3 linked regions of the Homo sapiens genome follow. The protein of the gene in region 3 interacts with the protein of the main gene of each other region in a pairwise test. Each region holds a gene or a part of one and is shown on either strand. Other genes may lie near its edges.

What was found.
Region 1: the proteins of TMEM70 (region 3) and BDKRB2 interact in a two-hybrid assay, tested with the Homo sapiens proteins (one large-scale study listed by BioGRID and IntAct).
Region 2: the proteins of TMEM70 (region 3) and LPAR3 interact in binary tests that used the Homo sapiens proteins (3 or more experiments, as listed by UniProt).

The regions. Positions count from the first base shown.
Region 1 is NC_000014.9:96,239,245-96,242,893, forward strand, and holds part of BDKRB2 (B2 bradykinin receptor), read left to right. Parts: intron 1-1,158; coding exon 1,159-2,260; 3' UTR 2,261-3,649. UniProt on the Homo sapiens protein: Receptor for bradykinin. It is associated with G proteins that activate a phosphatidylinositol-calcium second messenger system.
Region 2 is NC_000001.11:84,816,575-84,820,223, forward strand, and holds part of LPAR3 (lysophosphatidic acid receptor 3), read right to left. Parts: intron 1-3,649. UniProt on the Homo sapiens protein: Receptor for lysophosphatidic acid (LPA), a mediator of diverse cellular activities. May play a role in the development of ovarian cancer. Seems to be coupled to the G(i)/G(o) and G(q) families of heteromeric G proteins.
Region 3 is NC_000008.11:73,974,883-73,979,008, forward strand, and holds the start of TMEM70 (transmembrane protein 70, mitochondrial), read left to right. Parts: upstream 1-1,312; 5' UTR 1,313-1,399; coding exon 1,400-1,609; intron 1,610-3,873; coding exon 3,874-3,979; coding exon of another isoform or gene 3,980-3,987; exon of another isoform or gene 3,988-3,993; intron 3,994-4,126. UniProt on the Homo sapiens protein: Scaffold protein that participates in the c-ring assembly of mitochondrial ATP synthase (F(1)F(0) ATP synthase or complex V) by facilitating the membrane insertion and oligomer formation of the subunit c/ATP5MC1 through its interaction.

The sequences.
Region 1 (3,649 bases), on a different chromosome or scaffold from region 3:
TCTTCAGCTTGAATGTTGCAACAGCCATGAAAAAAGAAATGCAAAGCGATTCAGGATGAGAGCAATACCCTACTCCAAAGAAGGCAAAATAGAAGCTCAGAGAGGTCAAGCATTTTGCCCAAGACCACACAGCTAGGAGTGGAACTCATGGCTGTCCAAGCCCCACGCCTCTGCTGAAGGTAGAGATGAATTACAGCAACAAGTCTAGAAAGGTGCCTGCCCTATGGTCTGTGAGTCTTGCCTAAGAATGAAAGAGGAGCCAGTGGGTTAAAGATGAGGTCACCAACAAACGGTGGTGTTGGAGTTTACCACTGGTTATTTTAATGGGTTTGCAAGAATTGTTAATTACTAATGTTTATTGAGCCTAGTGCAGTGCTTGGGGCATTTTGCACATTGTCTCTGATCCCTATCACAACCCTGAGAGGTAGTTTTTTTAACTCCCATTTTACAGGTGAGGTCATTGTGGTTCAAGGACGTTAAGTAACTTCCCCAGCGTCACACGGCTTATAAGTAAGGCAGCCAGGATGTGAACCCAGTAGGACTATCTGGCTGCAAAGTCCCCACCCTCCCTCGCCATCTGTATCCTCCAATCATCTTCAGTGCTTTGCTGATAGAAGGTACGGAAATACGATGCCACAGACTGTCCAGGAAGACAGAAACTAGGCAGATGGGCTGGCCATGGTCTCCAAGCCAGACTGGAATCTCCAGGTCTGGAATGATATCATTTTTCTCTTTTAATAAATTAACTCACCCACCACACGGCTTTGAGAGGCTCAAAGGTGACCAACTCCCTTGGGAGGGCCCCGGTTGATAAGGAAGGAATGTGAATCCTCCCATCACGGAAGCTTCAAGGAGGTCAAGGGTCCAACACTTGAGATTGTTAGTGCTGTTGGTGGATACTGGCCAAGGAAATATCCCAGTGGAGCCTCGAGATGAAGAACATGAGGCCCCCGTTTAGATCCAAGGATCAGAGGGGGCTCTGTAAGACCCAGGGGAGTCAGGTGCACTGGAGCGCGGGCTGCAGAAAACAGCCTGAGCTCCACCTCGGCTTCTCCTTGCCCTGGCTGGTTGTCCTTAACCCCTGTCTCCTTCTGGACCAGTTTTTGTCCTTCCCTTGTGACCCTGAGGGGTAACAGCCTCTTTTCCACTTTCTTTCAGCGCCGACATGCTCAATGTCACCTTGCAAGGGCCCACTCTTAACGGGACCTTTGCCCAGAGCAAATGCCCCCAAGTGGAGTGGCTGGGCTGGCTCAACACCATCCAGCCCCCCTTCCTCTGGGTGCTGTTCGTGCTGGCCACCCTAGAGAACATCTTTGTCCTCAGCGTCTTCTGCCTGCACAAGAGCAGCTGCACGGTGGCAGAGATCTACCTGGGGAACCTGGCCGCAGCAGACCTGATCCTGGCCTGCGGGCTGCCCTTCTGGGCCATCACCATCTCCAACAACTTCGACTGGCTCTTTGGGGAGACGCTCTGCCGCGTGGTGAATGCCATTATCTCCATGAACCTGTACAGCAGCATCTGTTTCCTGATGCTGGTGAGCATCGACCGCTACCTGGCCCTGGTGAAAACCATGTCCATGGGCCGGATGCGCGGCGTGCGCTGGGCCAAGCTCTACAGCTTGGTGATCTGGGGGTGTACGCTGCTCCTGAGCTCACCCATGCTGGTGTTCCGGACCATGAAGGAGTACAGCGATGAGGGCCACAACGTCACCGCTTGTGTCATCAGCTACCCATCCCTCATCTGGGAAGTGTTCACCAACATGCTCCTGAATGTCGTGGGCTTCCTGCTGCCCCTGAGTGTCATCACCTTCTGCACGATGCAGATCATGCAGGTGCTGCGGAACAACGAGATGCAGAAGTTCAAGGAGATCCAGACAGAGAGGAGGGCCACGGTGCTAGTCCTGGTTGTGCTGCTGCTATTCATCATCTGCTGGCTGCCCTTCCAGATCAGCACCTTCCTGGATACGCTGCATCGCCTCGGCATCCTCTCCAGCTGCCAGGACGAGCGCATCATCGATGTAATCACACAGATCGCCTCCTTCATGGCCTACAGCAACAGCTGCCTCAACCCACTGGTGTACGTGATCGTGGGCAAGCGCTTCCGAAAGAAGTCTTGGGAGGTGTACCAGGGAGTGTGCCAGAAAGGGGGCTGCAGGTCAGAACCCATTCAGATGGAGAACTCCATGGGCACACTGCGGACCTCCATCTCCGTGGAACGCCAGATTCACAAACTGCAGGACTGGGCAGGGAGCAGACAGTGAGCAAACGCCAGCAGGGCTGCTGTGAATTTGTGTAAGGATTGAGGGACAGTTGCTTTTCAGCATGGGCCCAGGAATGCCAAGGAGACATCTATGCACGACCTTGGGAAATGAGTTGATGTCTCCGGTAAAACACCGGAGACTAATTCCTGCCCTGCCCAATTTTGCAGGGAGCATGGCTGTGAGGATGGGGTGAACTCACGCACAGCCAAGGACTCCAAAATCACAACAGCATTACTGTTCTTATTTGCTGCCACACCTGAGCCAGCCTGCTCCTTCCCAGGAGTGGAGGAGGCCTGGGGGCAGGGAGAGGAGTGACTGAGCTTCCCTCCCGTGTGTTCTCCGTCCCTGCCCCAGCAAGACAACTTAGATCTCCAGGAGAACTGCCATCCAGCTTTGGTGCAATGGCTGAGTGCACAAGTGAGTTGTTGCCCTGGGTTTCTTTAATCTATTCAGCTAGAACTTTGAAGGACAATTTCTTGCATTAATAAAGGTTAAGCCCTGAGGGGTCCCTGATAACAACCTGGAGACCAGGATTTTATGGCTCCCCTCACTGATGGACAAGGAGGTCTGTGCCAAAGAAGAATCCAATAAGCACATATTGAGCACTTGCTGTATATGCAGTATTGAGCACTGTAGGCAAGAGGGAAGAAAGAGAAGGAGCCATCTCCATCTTGAAGGAACTCAAAGACTCAAGTGGGAACGACTGGGCACTGCCACCACCAGAAAGCTGTTCGACGAGACGGTCGAGCAGGGTGCTGTGGGTGATATGGACAGCAGAAGGGGGAGACCAAGGTTCCAGCTCAACCAATAACTATTGCACAACCATCTGTCCCTGCCTCAGTTCCCTCTTCTGTAACATGAAGTCGTTGTGAGGGTTAAAGGCAGTAACAGGTATAAAGTACTTAGAAAAGCAAAGGGTGCTACGTACATGTGAGGCATCATTACGCAGACGTAACTGGGATATGTTTACTATAAGGAAAAGACACTGAGGTCTAGAAATAGCTCCGTGGAGCAGAATCAGTATTGGGAGCCGGTGGCGGTGTGAAGCACCAGTGTCTGGCACACAGTAGGTGCTCATTGGCTCCCTTCCACCTGTCATTCCCACCACCCTGAGGCCCCAACCGCCACACACACAGGAGCATTTGGAGAGAAGGCCATGTCTTCAAAGTCTGATTTGTGATGAGGCAGAGGAAGATATTTCTAATCGGTCTTGCCCAGAGGATCACAGTGCTGAGACCCCCCACCACCAGCCGGTACCTGGGAAGGGGGAGAGTGCAGGCCTGCTCAGGGACTGTTCCTGTCTCAGCAACCAAGGGATTGTTCCTGTCAATCAATGGTTTATTGGAAGGTGGCCCAGTATGAGCCCTAGAAGAGTGTGAAAAGGAATGG
Region 2 (3,649 bases), on a different chromosome or scaffold from region 3:
GATCACCCAGGTCAGGAGTTCGAGACCAGCCTGGCCAACATGGTGAAACCCTGTCTCTACTAAAATGCAAAAAATTAGCTGGGCATGGTGGCAGGCACCTGTAGTCCCAGCTGCTTGGAAGACTGAGGCAGGAGGATTGTTTGAACCCAGGAGGCGAAGTTGCAGTGAACCGAGATTGTGCCACTGCACTCCAGCCTGGGCAATAGAGCAAGACTCCATCTCCAAAAAAGTAAAAAGCAAAAAAATATATAAATATCTTCATTTACTTGAAAAGAAGGCTTGCATCCAAACTCTGCCTGTTGTACTCTTCCATTTGTTTTGTGTGATCCTCTGCAATAGCCCAGGAAAAGTCTGTGCTTTCTCTATGTGATGCCCTTCAGGTTTTTGAAGACAGTTAACGCTTTCTGTCTTTCTTTAGCCTTTTCTCCAGGAGACACATATTGAATTTTATCTACTAGTTCCCAGATGCGTACCTCTGGACACTCATTCATATTTGTTAATGCTGAGAATTTTTTTTTTAAAGTAATCTGGGCATCACACAAACTCTTCTTTGAACCCTGCTGGTTCCCAGCAGTCATAGTCTGAGCATTGAGGCTAAATACTCAAAAGACATTCCTTTTAGTTTTTTTCTTCTGGATTTATGTAGATTGGTAGGCAACTAAGTGATAAATATTTTCCAGGATCTATCACACACACACACACACACACACACACACACCCCTCACTTTTAAGAATTAGTCCAGTTACCTGTTTGAATGTTCCTGACATCTCCACATTCTCTATGAATTCTCCAAGACTACAGAGCCTAGGGTGTGGAGGTGCGTGGGGAGGACTTATGTTTAACTGCTAACATAGAGCAAACCCCCTCAAAGTATGAACTGTTAGATAAACTGTGCATCTCTTCTGAGATGTGTTTGGAGAGAGATCTTGGCCTCCAGGTGGAGGAGGCTTGGAACAGCTGTTTCCCAGGGTCACTGCCGGGGAGCATCTGCTTAAGGCAACATCTCTGAAGTACCTGTTCTCTAGTTTAGCCACCTAGTATGTTTGTGCTGTTCTGTCGAAGAACATTTGCCTTTTGTTGTTCATTGGAAACAGCATAAAGATGAGATCAGCAGATTTTTATTTCTCTTCTGACACCACGGCCAGCCAATCAGCCAATATTTTTGTTGGATTCCTTTGGATTCCTTCCCTCCTTCCATCTCTCCCTCCCTTTCTTCCTTTCCTGGCCAAAAAAAAAAAAAAATCTTTCCTTTAACAACCAAAGAATGATGTAATTGTGATATATGTAGCTTTATGGTCAGACATGACATACTACGGAGGGGCCCTTGAAGTCCAGAGGTACCCTCCTACTCCTCCTTCACTCTCTTCAGTAGTAAGATGCTTTACGGGCCACAGCTGAGCAGCCTAGCACAAAGTCAGGAACATGGCTCTGGTGCCAGGCTGCCTGGGTTCCAATCCTGGCTCTTCCACTGATCGGCTGTGTGCCTTTGACCACATCACCTAACTTCTCTGTGCTGTAGTTACCTCAGGCTTAAAATGAGGGCAGGATTAGTACCATTCCCAAGGGTTTTTATAAAAATTAAATGGATTAATTCATATACAATGATTAAAACAGCATCTGACACAAGATCATTGCTCAATAAAAAGCTTATAAGGTTTTAATTGAATGAATTATTTTATGTAATTCAACGAAAAGGGAAACTATATAGGAATTATCGTATTATGACAAAAAGCATCAATGTGAAGACTTGTTTGGAGTGTTGGGTCACAAGATTAATTCAAAACAGAGTTTTGTGCTGGGGAGAAAACTTTCATGACAAAAAAATCACGTCATTAAAGAACAAAAAATCACATTAAAAATTCACATCTAATAATATGAGAGTGGGGCTTTAGGAAAACATTGGCAATTTATTTTTATCCTTTTTTGAGTGTGTGTGCGATGCACGCATGCCAGGGGGGTGTATTATATTATTCAAACAAAACTACAAAAAATATAGTGAACTTTAAAAAATAATGCTTAAAAGAATAAAAAAAATAAGAATACCTGTCTACTTACCACCCAACTTAAAGAACTTAAAGAAACTTCAAAGAACACTATCGTATCTTTAGAGCTTCCTGGGTGCCCACCCCAGGAGCCCTCTCTCCTGTTGAGATAAACGTATCATACATTTTGGGCTAATCATCTTCTTGCTTTTTCTCATGGTTTTCCAATATACGGATGTAATGTTAGACATCATATTGTTTAGATTGATCTGTTTTTTAACTGTACCGTGATTTGCACTGATTTTAGTTATCAATATATTGGAATTCACTTCTAGCATCTTATTTTGTTCTTTGTTTCATTTTTTTCTATGTTTCGCTTTTTTCCCCCTCTCTTTTTTCGTATTGAGATCTTTTATTTTTTCATTTCCTTTGGTTTCATTTTCCCCCTTCCACTGGTTTGGAAGTTGTAGACTCTATTAAATCTCGACTTACATGTTTAACAAAGTATAAAGTTGGCCAGTGTTTGTCCTTCCTTCCCGTCAGCATAAGGACCTTGGAACACTCCCACCTGGATTTTTTGGAATTATACAATTTCATATAGAAAGGACTCTTCACATCAAAGTTGGTAGCTATAGCTTTTGATGTCTGGCTTGTTTAGTTTTTCTCTCTTGACAACACAGTAACCCTCTCTTGAGAATAGCAGAGAGAATAAAAATGTTACTGTTATGGGAAATACAGATCACTGGAGCTGGGTGGGGCCTTAAAGATTACCAGTGTTTTTCAAACTTTTGACCAAGCCAAATGAAAATTAAAGGAACTTTTAAAATAATGCATATTCTCTGGTCCCACATCAGACCCAATAGTCAGAATCTCGGGTGGGACACAGAAATCTGCAGGACTAAAAAGTTCCCTGGGTGATCATGATGCACAGCCAGTTTTGTAACCTATTTCTCCATGCTGACCCAAAATGGTTTAATCAAGCTGACTCCATAAGCAAAATTATAGATGCCATATAGACTTAGCAAAAAGCCATGGAAAAGAGAGAGGGAGCACAGTTTTTTCAAATGAGAAAATAAGCATCTCTAGAGATGAATATCTTCAATTTGCATTTGGGAAAATGTTTGAGCACATACGCAAAAATAAATATACAAAGAGTGGCAGCAAAAGTAGTCTACAGGCAAGGCATCCACAGTCCTCCTCTGCTGCTCTTTGGCTCGCCGTGCCAGGAATGCCTTCTCACCTCCTAATCTGAGGTCTGCTTTTCTTTCTAAGCTTAGTGCATACTCTGCCTTCTCCACTGGAGCTCTCCCATCTCTTCCACCACAGTGTCCATTTCCTCCTCTCAACTCCTGTAGCACTTTCTACCTATAGCATTCACGTGGCACTGGGCACATTACCTGCTTAATTCCTCTCTAGCATTTCCTGAGAACTCTGGGTCAGGCAGTGTGCTCAGGGCTTTACATGCACTTCCCCTGTAAAACTCACAGCCTTACAAAGTTGCTACTTTTATTATTATCCTAGACTAACATACAATAAATTTGAAGTTTAGAGTAGCTCAACAGTTTGTCCTAGGTGCACAAGCCAAAAAATAGAAGTTATCATTTGAACTCAGGCCTGACTTCCCCATGCAAACTCTTGAGCATTGAGCTATACTAGAGGTAGTTTT
Region 3 (4,126 bases):
GCTGGTCTCAAACTCCTGGAATCAAGTGATCCTCTCACCTGGGCCTCCACGTAGTATTGGAATTGCAGGCGTGAGCTCCCGCCCCTGGCCACACATTATTTTAGACTATGAATTTGTTCCTCTCCGGTGCAAATAACATGTCAAATCAAAAACATGTATAGTTCTGCAGTGGTAAACAAAAGTGTGTTTCTATTACTAAGATGCTCATCCTTCAAGACTGAGCTAAATGTGAAGCCAGTCTGAAGACATTCTGAGGCAAAATTAATCATGTTCTTCTTTGTACTTCTGTGGCATTTGTTTGTTCTTTTTTTTGAGACACGGTGTCACTTTGTGGTCCAGGCTGGAGTGCAGTAGTGTGGTCTTGGCTCACTGAAGCCTCGACTTTGGGCTCAAGCAATCCTACCATGTCAGCCTCCTGGGTAGCTGGGACCACAGGCACACACTTACCATGTGTGGCTTATTTTTGTTTTAGGTTTTTTTTTTTTTTTTTTTTTTGTAGAGACGGGGTCTCCCTGTATTGCTCAGGCTGGTCTCAAACTCCTGGCCTCAAGAGATCTTCCTGCCTAAACCTCCCAAAGCGCTGGGATTACAGGTGTAAGCCACCACGGCCAGCCACATTTTGTATATTGCGGTGTCTCAATTGTATTACATTATATTCTAGCCAATTTTCAGGTATTTTCCTCCACTGTTTAAGCACTGTGGATTCCCAGTTTAATCTAGTATTTTGTATCCTCTGCTCCTAGCTCAGTCCTGGCAATAGATTCAGTACCTCTTTAACAAGTAATGAATCAATGTGTATATGGATGTGAATGATTTCCGAAGACAAATCTGGTAACACCTATCAATATTACATGAACAATTCCATTTATTTTCCTCCAACCCGATGATTCAATTAAGTTATCACTCATTTTTGTTCAAATCGTATATTCTTTCTTCTGTGCCAACAGGCTAGAATCATTTTCCGCAAAGGAAACAGTTTTTAGTGATGTCGTCCACGAGAAAAAAAAATATTTAACCCTGGCTTCTGGGCATTGTCATTCTCGTACAGCCCTCTGCCCCTCCACACTGTTATAAAGAAGGTAAAATTCTAGGAAGGAGGAGCCGCTGAGCCAAGGACAGAGCGGCGGGCTCCCAGCTCAGCTGGCGGATAACGCGCGCGGCCGGGAAGGCGGCAGGCGGGCGGCAGGCGGGCGGCAGGCGGGCGGCAGGCGGGCGGCAGGCGGGCGGCAGGCGGGCGGCAGGCGGGCGGCAGATTCTGCGCACGCGCAGGCAGCCCAGCTGCCAGTCAGGCGTCCCGGGCTGGGCATGCGCCACTTGTGCGGCAGTCGGGTGGGAAGCCGTGTCTCGCAGTCGTGGACTCGTGCAGCTGGGGCGTCCGCAGCCGCTCGTCACCCGCGTGATGCTGTTTCTGGCGTTGGGCAGCCCGTGGGCGGTCGAACTGCCTCTCTGCGGAAGGAGGACTGCATTGTGTGCGGCCGCCGCGCTCCGAGGTCCCCGGGCCTCTGTCTCCCGGGCGTCCTCCAGCAGCGGGCCTTCGGGGCCGGTAGCCGGCTGGAGTACGGGGCCTTCGGGAGCCGCGCGCCTTCTCCGGCGTCCGGGTCGAGCGCAGGTAGGGCGTCCGAGGTCTGGTGTCCCAAGTGAGGCGGGGAGGGCGGGCGTCGTGTCGGGCCTGGGGAGCCCCAGCGGCTCTTCGCGACCTCTCCCAGGTGTCCGTGGCTGGAGCGCGGGAGGAGCCCCCTCTGCGGGGCTTGCAGAAGTAGCAGGCCGAGGGCCCCGGGGTCCTCAGCCTCCGCGAGTCCAGGAGAACGGCTGGAAAGTGCTTACTTTTATGGTAGTTCCAAATCCAGAGGGTTTGTGGTGACAACTATATGTAGTTCCTTTTCTGCCCTTGAGTAGAAGCTTAGAAGTGTTAATTTGCAAAAAATTGGATGCAGCACCTGGAAATAGAACCGAAAGAGCCAGGTTAACCTGACTTTGAGCTTGTTCTACTTTTATGAGGTGGCTGTACTTTTAAGAATTACTTTGGTCCCTGGGAAAAGGGGGATGCAGATGTTAATTCTTTTATTTTGATCTGAATAAATTGTCTTCTAATTCTACTCTGTAAAATATCAGGATTGGCAAACCTGGTTAAAACTTGGAAGAAATGCTTAAAATGGAAATTGGAATCTAATTACATTTCAGCATTGAGGAATTAGGCATGCCTTTTACATTTTGAAGTGTATACACTGTGAAACTCATTTTCAGATGTATGGGGAACGCTTCTGTTCCCTTGAAATTTGATGTAGGATTTCAAGTAAATTTTATTTCTTTTTTTTTGGAGGTGAAGTCTCGCTCTGTCACCCTGGTTGGAGTGCAGTGACGTGATCTTGGCTCACTGCAACCTCCGCCTTCCGGGTTCAAGCGATTCTCCTGCCTCAGCCTCCCCAGTAGTTGGGATTACAGGCGCGCTCCACCACACCCCGGCTGATTTTTTTTTTGTATTTTTAGTAGAGACGGGGTTTCACCGTGTTGGCCAGGCTCGTCTTAAACTCCTGACCTCAAATCATCCTCCTGCCTCGGCCTGTCAAAGGGTTGGGATTACAGGCGTGAGCCGCTGTGCCCAGCCAAATTTTATTTCTTGTCAAGAAATAAGAGGACCAGGGGATACACGGTATTTACAAGGTCTTTAGAGAAAGATTTGATCTCTTTAATACTATCATATAAATATTTTAGCAGTATTTGTAAAAGGCCTGGACTTTAAATATAATGTGAGTTTGCGGAGTATTTTACTTAAATTATTTTAGTAAAATTAAATTTTATTTCTTAGAGATGGGGTCTTGCCATGTTGCCCAGGCTGGCCTTAAACTCCTGGGCTCAAGTGATCCACCTCAGCCTCCCCAGTAGCTGGGGCTATAGACGTGTTCCATTACACCAGCTAAATGTATTTATTTTTTGAAAAGGTGTTGCATTTAAATAGAATGGAAATGATGTCGTCATTAACAGTGGAGTAGAAGAAACTGTTACTATTTTTACTTGTTCAAGGTCACACTAGACCTAGAAACCTGAGAGCTGGGATGCTAAGCTAACAAACTCCAGCTCTGCAGTTTTCTACTTGTGACTAGAATTAAGGCAAGCCATTCTGTCAGCCAATTTATTTCTTTAACTCTGTAGATTATTTGGGAGAATTCCTTATGTCACCTCATGTGACAAGTTCTTTTCATTACAATTTTATTTTATTTTTTTGAGACGGAGTCGTGCTCTGTTGCCCAGGTTGGAGTACAGTGGTGTGATCTCGGACCACTGCAATCTCCGCCTCCCAGGTTCAAGCGATTCTTCTGCCTCAGCCTCCGGAGTAGCTGGATTACAGGCGCCAGACACCATGCCCGGCTAATTGTTTGCATTTTTAGTAGAGACGGGGTTTCACCATGTTGGCCAGGCTGGTCTTGAACTCCTGACCTCAAGTGATCCGCCCCCCTCGGCCTCCCAAAGTGCTGGGATTACAGGCATGAGCCACTGCACCTGCATTACAATTTTAAAAATAAACTTAAGCTGGGCATGGTGGCTCATGCCTGTAATCCCAGCACTTTGGGAGGCCAAGGTGGCAGATCACTTGAGGTCAAGAGTTCAAGACCAGTCTGGCCAACATGGTGAAACCCCGTCTCTAATAAAAATACAGAAATTAGCCGGGTGTGGTGGTGGGCACCTGTAATCCCAGCTACTCAGGAGACTGAGGCAGGAGAATTGCTTGAACCCGGGAAGCAGAGGTTGCAATGGTGAGCTGAGATCGCACCACTGCCCTCCAGTCTGGGAGACAGAGCAAGACTCTGTCTCAAAAAAAAAAACTTAAAAAAATTTAAGAAGGTTAGTTGACCATAATGATCCCTGTTTCAATAGATCCCTGTTTATTGGGAAGGATATGTTCGATTCTTAAATACGCCATCTGACAAATCAGAAGATGGAAGGCTAATTTATACTGGCAATATGGCCCGAGCAGTGTTTGGTAAGTAATTGGAGGTGGGTGTACTTACTTTGTTTTTTTCTCTTTTAATTGTAAAAATATCCTTACCATATCTTACTTGTTGTTATGGCATCCCTTAATTACAAGACGTAAGGAAAATTAGATTTTCATTTTTTTTTCTTGAGGTGT